Homo sapiens: one gene and its partner. The protein of the gene in region 2 interacts with the protein of the main gene of each other region in a pairwise test. Each region holds a gene or a part of one and is shown on either strand. Other genes may lie near its edges. The genes, in order: CCDC198 and IQGAP3.

What was found.
Region 1: the proteins of IQGAP3 (region 2) and CCDC198 interact in a two-hybrid assay, tested with the Homo sapiens proteins (one large-scale study listed by BioGRID).

What each region holds. Positions count from the first base shown.
Region 1 is NC_000014.9:57,490,836-57,495,372, forward strand, and holds the start of CCDC198 (factor associated with metabolism and energy), read right to left. Parts: upstream 3,023-4,537; 5' UTR 2,881-3,022; coding exon 2,658-2,880; intron 1,205-2,657; exon of another isoform or gene 237-1,204; coding exon 154-236; exon of another isoform or gene 149-153; coding exon of another isoform or gene 107-148; intron 1-106. UniProt on the Homo sapiens protein: May be involved in tuning the metabolism, energy expenditure, and excretion processes.
Region 2 is NC_000001.11:156,534,566-156,538,065, forward strand, and holds part of IQGAP3 (ras GTPase-activating-like protein IQGAP3), read right to left. Parts: intron 2,757-3,500; coding exon 2,616-2,756; intron 683-2,615; coding exon 598-682; intron 169-597; coding exon 1-168.

The DNA of each region.
Region 1 (4,537 bases), on a different chromosome or scaffold from region 2:
AGAGTATTTGCGATTGATGACATTTTTCTTTAAGAACATTCTCATTAATAGCTTGGTCCTTATCAATATCCCTCTTTGATGATTATAGTTTAAAAAGGGATGTTACCATTTTATCCAAGAAATTCCTTATGAAGCCTTTTAAATTCATCTTACTTGAAGTCTTTGGGGTGGATGCCTTTTAATAATACTTGTTTCTCTGTGTTCCAGTGGGATGTCAAAATACATGTCTCTGGATGCTTGAAGGATTGGGGAAGAAACAGGAATAAAACATTAAATATAATTTACTATTAAATCAGGCAATCATTAGTTACTAGACTTTGTCAACACAATTTTGTACCTTTTCAGTTATATATGTCTAACCTGTGGGTTGAATGTGGAGATGAAACACAGAAAGCAGGGAACCTACATTAGTGCACATGACACTATTTTAGTCTGGACCCAGGATTTAATATCTGCTCTCCTAACTTCCTACTCAGGTTCATACTTAGGGGGAGAGTTACAAAATTACCAATATGTTGACTGCAAATATTTTTCAAACAGAATTTGGCCTGGAAAATAGAAATTTATTGACTTATTTTAATTCCATAAAATCTCCTCCCTGAAATATAAGACATCAGAAAAATATATAACTTTAAAAAATGAAAACAATCTTCTTAGATGAAATAGATGATAGATAGATAGGTGATTATACAGAGATGAGAAAGAAATGGAGTACGTGTGAACACAATTCAATAGCCCCTTTAGTGAAAAAAATTTCCACAGGTTGCCACTGTAATACAGCATATCAATATTCTTTCCTGATGAAACAAGCTGGGGATACAGAGTTAAGCCTCTATTAGGAAACAGAGAGGCTCAACAGATCCATTATGGATTTTATTTTCCAGCTTGATTATCCTGAGCTCTTGGGAGTGCTACCATGACCAGCGCTGCATGAATGAAGTTCTTGTCCTTCCCTTTTAACAATCTGGACACATTCTGACTTCTAGATTGTTTCATAGACTATTTTACAGTCCCACTTTGCATTTTAAATGGAAAAATCCCTGGGTAATTATGCATCTCTCTCCTTAAGACATGTGAATAACCACTTCAAGGACTTTGTTCTCTCTAACTTTTAGTGGGATGGAAACTATGTCCTTATTTTCTTTTGAAAAGATGCCAGCATATTGAGCAGGATGGAAACAACAAACATACTGGATTTAACAATGTAAGTATTTTCAGCTATTTTTTCAGAAGGCTTACTAATCCTTATTTTTTTTATTTTAGTGACATTACTCCATTATTTAATTAGATTTTCCTCAACTGGCATAGGCTGTGTCAGGCATTTATTTTTACCCCTGATTACAAGTGAAAAAAATTGATGAAGTAACTTGCCCAAGGTCATTCGATTTGGTATTTGATGGAGCTGGGGTGAGAATATGGGAGATCATGAGGATTCTCATGATCTTGTTATTTATTTTTAAATGTGATTTTGTCACTTCAGACATAAGCTCACCATTTATTCAGTTACCTAAATCTTTTTTTTCTTTTAATTGAGACAGAGTCTCTCTCTGTCACCAAAATCTTAAAACTCTCAATGGGGGTTTGGATAAAAAGGGAATTCCTCAATAGGAGCATTGCATACTCTTAGTACACATTCACGCTCCATTTTTTAAATCATGTCTATCACCTATCCCTCTATCTATCATAAAAAAATTCCTAAGGGGAAAATTCCCATCCATGTGCTTAAGAACTTGAAGAACATAAAGAACATAAAAACAGGCCATATAGAAACAACCAAACGTTATCAATTCTGCAGACAATAGCCATGAAAAATCATTCCAGGCAAGATTTGCTAGGTACCAAAAGAGAATGTGAGGCTTTCTGAACAAGGCATCCAATAAGGGAAACTTATTTGTGTTATTGATCCAGAAGGTGAAGAAAAGGGAAAACAATATACATATATATATGTATATAATAAACATATATTTTTCTAAGTGAGAATGTCTGTTTAATTATCATTGTGGTCATCATAAAACATTTTACATGGCTTATAAAATATCCCAGGATTTATGGCCACTTCAGGCTCAGAGCTTCCAATCATAATGGGAAAGAATTCTGTTAGTTCTGCAGATGACCATGAAGAATGTGGGGTTGGGAAAAGGGTGACTCATCCACTCCTCTGTACTGCAATAAATCAATACTGTTTAGGGTGGTTTCAAAATTCATGTTAGAATTAACTCACTCTTAAAGTGTTGCTTTCAAAACCACAAAGTCTGGTGCATTAAACTATACTGGAGAGAATGATTTAAATTTAGAATCTAACTGAAACGCGATTGCTATCATTTATCACTAGTATCTATATAATTTTAATGGTCTGGCAAAACTAGGTATAAACATTGAAAGCATTACAAACTGAGCTGAAACAAAATGATTTATCCTTCTCATATGGAATAGTGAAAAGTCCTTTGTACAGTTTATACTCCCATTCTAATGAACCCAGAATACTTTCAACTGATGTTCAATCCTCATTGAAAGATTTGAGTTTTCAAAGATAGCCTAAATTCCTTTACATTTCAGGAATTTAGAAACTTTCTGAGATCATGGAGACAGTCAGATAAACCTATTAATAATGCTCCTTGGTCCAGATACACACATCTCATGCTGGGTTTTATGTTTACCTGTAGAATATCTTCCATACCAGTTTTCTTGTAAAGGTGGCAGCTGCCCTTCCAAGGCTTTATTCTGGTCCTGCAGTCTTGCCAGTGAATATGAAGTCTTTTCTTCCAAATTCTGATTGAATGCAAAGTCCACACGGCCAGCCGAGGGAGTCTCTACCTCTTTGTTTTGCAAAGGTGCTACTTTGATCACCCTAAGGTGAGTCTTAGAGTGACTCAGGCCCATTTCATGTGAAAGACATTCAGAGGAAAGCTGCGAGGGAAGTGGTTTTGGGGTCTTTAATATAGCTTATTTTAATCAAAGCATTTCAGAAGTTTACCCTCGCTTTACAAAGCAGTCATTTCCTTCATGGCATCCTTCTAGCTCTGTTTCACTGCACACTAACCCTTTTGGCCACTTCCTGGGAGGCTGGTTTCCATGGAGACTTCCCTTCAACTTTGCCGTTTCAGACCCAAAGAATCCAGTTAAACATTGACTTGGTTATGCTACTTTCTGAAATACTCAGTGATAGGAATAGAAGCCACTGTTGATCATTAAACAAATATCGAACACCAGGAAGGTTATTAACAGAGAGAGATGTAGAGCAGAGGTTTAGAGAAGTCTTAAACTTGACCCTTTCATTGCAAGTACCTTTGTAAAAAAACTAACTGCTGAGAATAGCTAAGCCATCTTTGCAATTAAGAGGATGCATGCTGATTGCCAAGGCTTTGTTAATCTTTAATTTAATTAAAGAATTTATCCCCCAAATAGGAAAGAAAGCAGCGGAGCGGCTAAAGCGTCATTTGATTTTTCTGTCGATGACTTGAGTTGCCTTTGAAGGGGGTGAATACATTGCAGGACAGGAGGATAATAGAAATTTTTTTCCTGGGGATAAGGGGAAAAAATTCTTGAATAAATGGTCTAAGTAAACCTTGAGTTTTTGAAGATAACCTATTTACTATGTTTTTAAACTAAATTAAATTAATTTATTTATTTTTGAGACAGAGTCTCACTCTGTCACCCAAGCTGGAGTCACCCAAGCCCAGCGATCTTGGCTCACCACAACCTCCGCCTCACCAGTTCAAGTGATTCTCCTGAGTCAGCCACCCAAGTAGCTGGGATTACAGGCACCTACTACCACCACACCTGTCTAATTTTTGTATTTTTTAGTACAGAAGGGGTTTCACCATGTTGGCCAGGCTGGTCTCGAACTCCTGACCTCAAGAGATCCACCTGTCTTGGCCTCCCAAAGGGCTGGGATTACACGCATGAGCCACAGTGCCTGGTCTATTATGATTTTTAAAGTAGAAAAAAAGACTGGAAGGAAATGTGCCGAAATATTGAGTAGTGATTTTTGAATGGTGGGATTATGGGTGATTTTTATTTTATTCTTTATACTTAGAAGTGGGACTAACTTTCAAGCTCTAATTGTTCATGAGCACAGATTACTTGTGTTTTCATCACATCTCCATAAAGAAATTAAAAGAAAATTTATTTTTCATCTTTGCAGAATCCATTTCCTAAGGGACTAAGGTGATGTTTGGAAAGTCTTGGTAGACAATCACGTTTATCTAAAAAGATGCCTGAATTTAGTTTTTTCCTTACTCTCTTTGCATTTTCCACATCATTTTCTCTGCAGCAGAGAGGTTTATAAGTAAAGACTAATATATTAACAGTATCTGCAAACACAACAGCCTCTGGTAAACAGACTAGCTTAATTACAAGGATAATAATACTTGAGTAAGGTCTAGTAAGATTTATTTTTTAGTACAATCAGTTTAAGTATTTCTAAGGGCAGGGGAATGTATTGCGAACTAACAAATGAACTAGACATTGTACTGAAAACTGTGGACTTCATGGATCTGGACCAGTAAGAGGGATTCAGCTCTTATGTTTTGTTTTA
Region 2 (3,500 bases):
GAAGGCCTTGCCAGCCGCAGCGTGCTGTAGGAGCTGAGCCACAGCCCCCAGGGCATGGCGCTGGGGGGCAGCCAGGGCTCCACCAGCTGCCATGGCCACAATGTCGAAGGCGTCAGGAGCCACCACAGCTGGGTTCAGGAAGCGGTAGTACAGGAGGTTCCCGACCACCTGAGGGCAAAGGAGACTCTCCCAGAAGTGTCCAGGGGCCGCCTTGACTGGTGCGGCCCCACATTCTCAGCTTGCTTGGCTGGAAGGGACACCTGGGCCAACCCCCTCACTTCAAAGAAAACAGGCCCAGAGCAGGCAGACAACTTGCTTAAGGCCACACAGCAAACCTGAGCAAGAGCTGGGACTTGAACCCAGATCTCCTGACAAGAAGCCAGTGTTGCCCACTCTGTTCGCTCACACCCCAGCATGAGCCATCTGCCACCTGAAGCCCTGCGGGTGAGCCAGGCTCCATTTATAGGGGGCAGCATATTTCCCTCCTTGGATTTTTATGGCATAGGATTTTTTGTGTTTTTGTCTCAGTCTGGGGATTGCAGGTACCAGCAAAGCAAAGGAGGGATTGGGAGGTGGGGGTGGGGAGACAACACTTGCCTTATAGACCTCGCTGTCTGTGGCGTCAGGGAATTTCTCTGCCAGAGTTGCCTTCAGGACTTTGGCCACATATCGCATCCCATACCTGGGGACAAAGAAACAGGTGCGCGTGGCTGTGCCTCTGCCCATCTCTCTCTGCCAGAGATAAGAGCTTGAGTGCCTGGCTGTCTCTTCTCCCCCAGGCTCAGCCACTCCAGAGTAGAGCTCAAGCACTGTCCCTCCACTAGCCATAGCCAGCTCCCTGCTGCCTTCCTCCAAACGTCTCTGGGCCTTGTCCCTTCCTCCTGCCTTATGTCAGTAGTCAGGACCAGGGCCCTATCATCTACTAAATCTCTCACACAGCCTCCAACCTGGCTCGAGAACCTCTTCTTTGAGACTCTCTGGGTCCCCTGCAGAGCACCCCAGCTCACCATAGCCATCCCCCATCCCCCAGAGGCACCATTAACCTAAAGCTTGGGTATCTGACACTCACAGCCAAAACCCTGTCCTAGGACAGCCTAGGTGGCTCCGAGGTAGTCAACCTTGTCAGCTGTCACAGAGCATCTGTGAGTGGCCTAGTCTGGGCTAGAGGTAGGGCCCCAAGGAGATCAGTGAGCCGGGAGGAGAAGCTCCAGTTTGGACTCCACCACCAACCAGAGATATTATCTTAGACTATTTCCTTCTCCTTTGTAAGTCTGTCCCCTGGTCTAGAAAATGGGAATGATCATTCTTGCCTTCTCTTCTCACAGGGCTTTTTGAGGATCAAGTGAAATTATGTCTGCGAGAGTAACGTATAATGGTAGAGTACTATTCAAATGTGCTAGACTGTATTATCATTATTATTCCTATTATGGATGTGCCACCTACAAATGTAATTAAATTCATTTAAAAGCAATTTCCACTCCTAGGGTACCAGAGACAGAAGTTTACAGCTCATTGTGTACTTTACTTTCTTAAGCCTAGAACAATCTTTTCTTACTCCTAATTGTAAACTCTTAATCCGGTTCTCCAGGTTTGGGGAGCAGGGTTATAAACTCTGTGGGTTCCCCCTTTCAACATCCTCATCTTGCCCTGGGCATTCCAGCCTGGGCAATGGAGTGAGACCCTGTCTTAAAAATAATAATAATAAAAAATAAAGAAAAACAAACAAAAAAAGAATGAAAGCCTGTCATTTTCGACAACATAGATGAACGTAGAGGTTCGTGTTAAGTGACATACATAAGCCAAACACAGAAGGACAAATACTGCATAATCTCACTCATATGTGGAATCTTAAAAAGGTGATTTCACAGGAGTAGAGAGTAGAATGGTGGTTACCGGAGTCTGGGGAGGGTAGGAGAAGGGGAGAGAGGATGGGGAGAGGTTGGTCAATGGGTACAAAGTTACATCCAGGTAGAAAGAATAAGTTCTGGTGCTCTATTGCACAGAAGGTGACTATAGTTGATAATAATGTGTTGTATATCTCAAAATAGCTAGAAGGATTTTGAATGTTCTCACCAAAAAGAAATAAATGTTTGAGGTAATAGATATGCTAATTACCCTGATTTGATCATTCATTGCACAATGTATACACGTATCAAAACATCACACTATACCCTATGAATATGTACAATTATCATGTGTCAAAAATAAATGTAGAAAACCAAACGTATTGACTAAATTTTAAGAAAAGAGAGAACTATAAAGTACTTTATGGGCTTAAAATATTTATTTTTGATATTGGGAACTGAAGAGTCCCATTTTCTCCTCATTTGCTCTTAGCTAATAAAGTGTCCCTGAGATCATTTTAGGGTCCCTCCTCTGGTTCCACTGACATCCTACCAGGCCACACACAGACTTGCACGCCGTCTCTCAGCTCAGCTCTCTAGCAGGAGCTTCGAGCATTCCCCACATCTCTTCAGGAACCCCTCTGAGTACCCCTGGCTCCATCTCCCTCCCTGCCTTCCTCCCTGCAGGACTATCACCCTGCTCTGCTCCCCATGGTGGCCTGGCCCTCTTGAAATCCCATGCGTAGGCTGGGGTGGGGCTGTTGCACATACGGAATTTGGTCCACAGATGAGGTGATGGCTAAAAGGAACTTATCAGTCATGGCGAGGAGGTTGCGTAGGGCGATGTCCAGTCGTCTCTGGACCTCGGGGTGGCTCAAGGCCTGCTCCGGGGTGACATCATATGGGAGATGGCTATGAGCAGAGAGAGACAAGGTGTAAGCAGGAGCCCCCTCCAATGGCCTCCTTCCCCAAGGCCCTATTCCTTAAACGCTTGTCTAACAACAAGATCTCATACAGATGTGCTAAGGACAGCTCAGCATGCTAAAGGAGAAAGGGCCAGAATGAGAGAAAGGACTGGAGAAATGCAGTCGGGAGGTAAAGAAGAGTTGGAGTATCTACAGGGAAGCTGGAAGAATGTAGGAAGGAACAGAGAACGTGGAATCTAGGGACCCTTCTAAGGGGAACAGATGACAAGCAGGCGGCTGCGCTGCAAATAGTCTTTGGGAGTTTGGAATAATGGAGAGGCTGGGCCAGAGCCTTATAGTTCCCTCACCTAAAGCCTCCTGTGCCATCCAGAGCAGCCACCAGGATTGCCTGCTCGCCTCTGTGGCTAGGTTTCCCTAGCACCTAGGGACCTGAGTAATGACCCCAGGCTATAAGGGCAACCTATCTCTCCCACTATCTCATTTGCCTATTCATCTGTAAATAGAAATATTCTTCTATACCCCTATCAATAGGAGTCCATATCCTAACTCCCAGCAAATTTTTTTTTTTTTTTTTGCGGGGGGACAGAGTCTCACTCTGTTGCCTAGAGCTGGAGTGCAGTGGTGCAATCTCGGCTCACCGCAACCTCCCAGGTTCAAGTGATTCTCTTGCCTCAGCCTCCCGAGTAGCTGGGACTGCAGGAGTGCGCCACAACACCCGGCGAATTTTTGT